2 separate regions of the Homo sapiens genome follow, and region 1 is linked to region 2. The links come from fine-mapping of genetic effects on gene expression. A gene starts in region 2. The other region holds a variant in brackets. All regions are shown on one strand. Distances are between the middles of the regions. Region 1 overlaps DBNL (drebrin like). Region 2 holds the start of POLM (DNA polymerase mu).

Region 1 (3,023 bases), 29 kb after region 2:
TACATACAAAAAAATGCTCAACATCACTAACCATCATCAGGGAAATGCAAACCAAAACCATAACGGGCTATCATCTCACCACAGTTAGAATGGCTATTATAAAAAACATAAAAAATAAATGCTAGCAAGGATGTGGAGAAAGGGAAATTCTTATACACTGTTGGTAGGAATGTAAAGTAGTACAGCCATTATAAAAACAGTATGGTTTTTTGGGTTTTTTTCTGAGACAGAGTCTTACTCTGTTGCCCAGGCTGGAGTGCAGTGGACAATCTCGGCTCACTGCAACCTCCACCTCCCAGGTTCAAGAGATTCTCTGCCTCAGCTTCCTGAGTAGCTGGGATTACAGGTGCCCGCCACCACACCTGGCTAATTGTTGTATTTTTTTAGTAGAGACGGGGTTTCACCATGTTGGCCAGGCTGGTCTTGAACTCCTGACCTCAGGTAATCTGTTCACCTTGGCCTCCCAAACTGCTGGGATTACAGGCGTGAGCCATCGCGCCTAGACAACAGTATGGTTTTTAAAACAGTATTTTAGTCCTACTAAAAGCAGAACTACCATATGATCTAGCAATCCAGCTGCTGGGGATATATCCAACTCTGAAGTTCAGCGCTATTAACAATAGCCAAGATACGGAATCAACCAAAACGTCCATCAATGGATGAAAGGGTAAAGAAAATTTAGTATATAAACATGAGGGAATATTATTCAGCCATAAAACAGAATGGCATCCTGTCATTTGCAGCAACATGGATGGAACTGGAGGTCATGATGTTAAGGGAAATAAGCCAGGCACAGAAGACAAGTATTGCATGTTCTCACTCATGTGGGAGCTAAAAAAGTGGGTATCATGGAGGGAGAGAGTAGAATGCTGGTTACCAGGGGTTGGGAAGGGCATGGGGGAGAGAAAATGAAGAGAAGTTGCTTAACAGGTACAAAAGTACAGTTAAATAGAAGGAATAAATTCTAGTATTCAATAGTACAGAAGGGAAATTATAGTTAACAATAATTTTGTGTATTTCAAATTAGCTAGAAGAGAAAAATTGTAATGTTCCCAACACAAAGAAAAGATAAATGTTTGAGGTGATGAACATGCTAATTACCCTGATTCATCGTATACATTGTATACAGGTATCAAAATATGACATGTATGCAAAAAATATGTACAACTATTATATATCAATTTATAAAAACTCTGGGCCAGGTGCGGTGGCTCT[C/T]GCCTGTAATCCCAGCACTTTGGGAAGCTGAAGAGGGCAGATCACTTGAGCTCAGGGATTCCAGACCAGCCTGGCCAACACAGGGAAACACCATCTCTACTAAAAATAGAAAACTTAGCCGGGCATGGTGGCAGGCACCTGTAATCCCAACTACTCAGGAGGCTGAGGCAGGAAAATCACTTGAACCTGGGAGGCAGAGGTTGCAGTGAGCCGAGATCGTGCCACTGCGTTCCAGCCTGGGTGACAGAGTGAGACTGTCTCAAAACAAACAAACAAACAAAAAACAAAACAATTAAAAAAAACTCTGATAAAAGAATGCCATGCATGTTTTCTACAAAAAGTAAGCCAATGATTTCTTCATAAGAAGCCAGACCCATGACGTCATTCACTGTTGCTATACAGGTTGAGCATCCCTTACCTAAAATTCCAAAATCTGAACTGCTCCAATGAACATTTCCTTTAAGCATTATGTCAGCACTCAAAAAATCTCAGATTCTGGGCTGGGCGTGGTGGTTCACGCCTGTAATCCTAGCACTTTGGGAGGCCAAGGCGGGCAAATCACGAGGTCAGGAGATCGAGACCATCCTGGCTAACACAGTGAAACCCCGTCTCTACTAAAAATACAAAAAATTAGCTGGGCGTGGTGGCGGGTGCCTGCAGTCCCAGCTAATCGGGAGGCTGAGGCAGAAGAATGGTGTGAACCCGGGAGGCGGAGCTTGCAGTGAGCCAAGATCACGCCACTGCACTCCAGCCTGGGCAACGGAGCGAGACTCAGTCTCAAAAAAAAAAAAAAAAAATTCAGATTCTGGAGAATTTCGGATTTTGGATGCTGAACTGAAAACATTCCCAAATCTGAAAAAATCCAAAACATTTCTGGTCCTAAGCATTTCAGATAAAGGATACTCAAACCTGTATATCGATAAGCTGGGAATTCTCTTATCAGCTCCTAGATGGAAACTGAGGTATAGCTGAAGAAATGTTGGCAGAACGAGAAATCAAAATTCTGAGTCTCCTTTGCCAGAGAAATGCAAAAAGTTACCTGACAAGTGACCAACAAATGCTTTTGTTACAAATAGTTTTTAAAATTTAAAAAGGTTCTATTATAGGACTGACATAACTCCATGTAGAGGGGGCTGGAAAGGAATGCATCAAAAGGGCACATGCGTGCTAAGATGGTGGGCACTCTCCCCTTCCTCCAAATCCTGACGGTATTACTAAACTGTTTAGAGGGATCATAAAACAAAACAGAACCAGGGCCCACCCTTCTCACGGCACCAGCTCCAGCATAGTCCTTTATCCTGCCCCACTGAGGCAGGCCTGTAGGTGGCCCTGGCAACATCCTGACCTCCCATGCACTCACTGACCGAGAGTGAAGCAGCCTCTGGTCATGCCCTCAAAGGCAGGCAGAGAGCATTAGCTATGAGCACACTCCCAACTCCAGTTCTGATTCCCACTTGCTCGCACCCAGGAACCTGCGAGACCTCAAGCCTGTGAGGCCTGTTCCCAGTGAAGCGGGCCTCACCTGGCCTTACCTTCAGGAAGCTGGCCATGGTGCTGACGTGGCTGGCACAGGCTCCCTTCCGCACATCGTTCACGCCCTCGCCTGTCTGCAACACAAGGATGCCCAGGTTGACCCAGGCCTCCCCCAAAGCCACTTCCCTTCCCTGGGGACCCAACATCTACCCTGTGTCCCAGAAAAGAGAAAACTGCAACCCCCAAAGCAGAACCTATTCTTCTGACTGCATCACATGGGTGAGGTAAGTTCCCATGCCTCCAAGGGGCTCATGGATTCTCCCTGGGCAGGATGG
Region 2 (2,728 bases):
GGTTTTAGACAGCTAGAGGGATCTGCTCAGGGGATATTTGGGCAGAGCCTCCTCCTTGAGAAGGGTAGGAGCCAGATCCACAGACGAAGACCCTTAGAGCCTGCCCATCCCTGCTGGCACAAGGGGAGGATGGGGAGAGAGGGACCATACGCAGGCCTCCTGGCTTCTGTATGTGGGTCCTGAGGCCCAGGAAGCTCTACAGCCCTGAAGAGGTAGATGAATTAGGAGGCTGGGAGATGGTGTAGGAGGTCAAGAGGATGCCTGGGCTGAGCCATCTCCCCCACTCCCCTCAGCCCTGTGCTCTGAGTGCAGAGATGGGGAAGAGCCAGCCCACTAAAGATGTCAGAGAGGAGCCAAAGAAAAAGGATAGGTGCTCAAGGAGTCTGGGGCTCAAGACTGAGGACGATGGGGCAGTGATGAGGAGAGGCATGTGGAAGGGGGTTGCATCTGATCTGGTGTCCCATCAGTTAGGCTGAGCAGTGCCACACTACCGTAACAGAGGTTACAAATGGAGTATATCTAAATAAGATAGACAGAAGACTTGATATTATCAAGACATCAGATTTCCCCAGCTTGATCTATAGATTCAATGCAATCCCAATCTTGGGAAAGGAATTGCTGGATCAATGTGTATTATTTTGTTTTCATTTTGTTGGATGTGGTTGCCACATTGGCTTCCACAGTCCTTCCTATGGATTGCCAATTACCTCGCACCTTCAACATGTGTGGTCAATTTTTTTGAATGTTTGATAAACCCACAACTGAAGATATTCTCATTTAGGTATTCTGTAACGACTGGACAGGTTGGGCACTCTGGTCATAAATTTATTGACCAGGATTTCTTCTAAGAATCATCTACGTGAGTTTTTTTGCTAATTTTTCTATTAAATTATTGTCTTTTTATCTATGGACAATTTGATAAGATTATCATGAGATAATCTTAATTCCAAAATATCTCACACTTTATCCCAGTTTATCTTCTGACTCTAATTTTTAATCAGATTTAAAATTTGTCTGTAGTCCAGTTTATCATTCTTTTCCTTTAGTGTTTCCAAGTTTATTGTGATATTTAGATCATAAAAACATTCACCGACTTTTTTCCAGTACGTTGTTGGTTTCCTTTTTAGATGGAAATGTTTGACCCATCTGGAATTTATTTTGGTGTTAAGGAATGAGGAAGGGCACCAACTTCTATTTTTCCAAATGGCCTGCCAGTTGTCCTAATGCCATTCGACTGAAAAATCTTCCCGCGTGTTTGAAGCGACCGCCCCACCAGCGCATTGGAAACCCGCGTGTCGGTCCTGCGCCCGCCGGCTTCCGTGTGACAGTCCCGAGCGCAGAGGGATCGGGCACAGCCCGCACGCGTCCGCCCCGAGCCGCCGGCTCAACCCTAGACCCAGCCCCGGCGCCAAGGACACAGCCCACCCCGCTCCGCCCGGGCCTAGGTCCCAGTTCACCCTCCCTAGCCGGGGACGCCCCCTTGACCCCGCCTCCTCCACCCCCTCCAACACCCTCCCCGCCCCGCTCCAGCCCAGCCTCTCCTCCCGGAGGCCAATGGGGCCGAACAGCGCTTTCCGAGACATTAATTTAAATAAAAGGCGGGTCCTCTGCCGTTATTTGCATGGAGGCGGGTCTTCCGGAGCGGCCGGGACACCCAATCCTGTAGGAGCCCGGACCCTCCCCAGCGCTCCGACTGGCCCAAGTAGCGAGCCCCACGGAGAGGCCTCATTTGCATAGGGCGGGGCCACGTCCTCTTCCAGCCGGCGGCCGCCCGCCCGCCCACCCGCTTCCGTCAGCCTCACTGGGGCTTCCTTCCGTCTCGCTCGGAGTTTCCCTCTGCGTTCGCTCCGCGCTGCTGGAGGCTGTCGTCCCAATGCTCCCCAAACGGCGGCGAGCGCGGGTCGGGTCCCCTAGCGGCGATGCCGCTTCCTCCACGCCGCCCTCGACGCGCTTCCCGGGAGTCGCCATCTACCTGGTCGAGCCTCGCATGGGTCGCAGCCGCCGGGCCTTCCTCACAGGCCTGGCGCGCTCCAAAGGCTTCCGCGTCCTTGACGCCTGCAGGTGCGGGGCGGCGCGGCGCGGCGAGGGCTTCCATGGCACTTCTGGTTTTGGATTCTAAGTTTGCAGTGGCACTTCGTGGTCTTGTGACCTTTCCCTGAGCCTCCATCTCCTCTTCTGTAAAGGGTGCTATTAATTAGGGCGAGGCGTGTTTTAAAGGATCACTGCGAGAATCAAAACCAGAGGTCAGGGGTAATTAATAAGCAGTAGGCCGGGCGCGGTGGCTCACGCCTGTAATCCCAGCACTTTGGGAGGCCGAGGCGGGCAGATCACGAGGTCAGGAGATCGAGACCATCCTGGCTAACACGGTGAAACCCCGTCTCTACTAAAAATACAAAAAATTAACCGGAGGTGGTGGCGGGCACCTGTAGTCCCAGCTACTCGGGAGGCTGAGGCAGGAGAATGGCATGAACCTGGGAGGCGGAGCTTGCAGTGAGCCGAGATCGCGCCACTGCACTCCAGCCTGGGCGACAGAGTGAGACTCTGTCTCAAAAAAAAAAAAAAAAAAAGTCGTATTTGCTAACAGCCCTTCTGCCTGGGCTATGTCCCACCTGTGAGCGAGACTGACTTCTCAAGAGGCCCGGAGCCCGCAGGCTCCTCTGTCCTCAGGCCTGAGTAAATAACACGACTGAGAAGCTCTTGTAGGAAGGGAACCAAGAGAAGAAAAAAT

Evidence for each region. PIP is the estimated chance that this variant, and not a neighbour inherited with it, causes the effect.
Region 1: its variant is fine-mapped to the expression of POLM in whole blood (TOPMed, PIP 0.94).

The regions. Positions count from the first base shown.
Region 1 is chr7:44,052,666-44,055,688 of GRCh38, reverse strand. It overlaps DBNL (drebrin like), which reads right to left. Exons shown (of 13, transcript NM_001014436.3): 4 at 2,748-2,822. Among named protein-coding and RNA genes, the nearest start is that of MIR6837, 2.4 kb to the right of the region's middle. The variant C/T (reference allele first, on the strand shown) is at 1,216.
Region 2 is chr7:44,081,584-44,084,311 of GRCh38, reverse strand. POLM (DNA polymerase mu) reads left to right here and starts at 1,782. Exons shown (of 11, transcript NM_013284.4): 1 at 1,782-2,061. The coding sequence starts at 1,874. RefSeq lists a silencer at 1,217-1,796 and an enhancer at 1,508-2,008.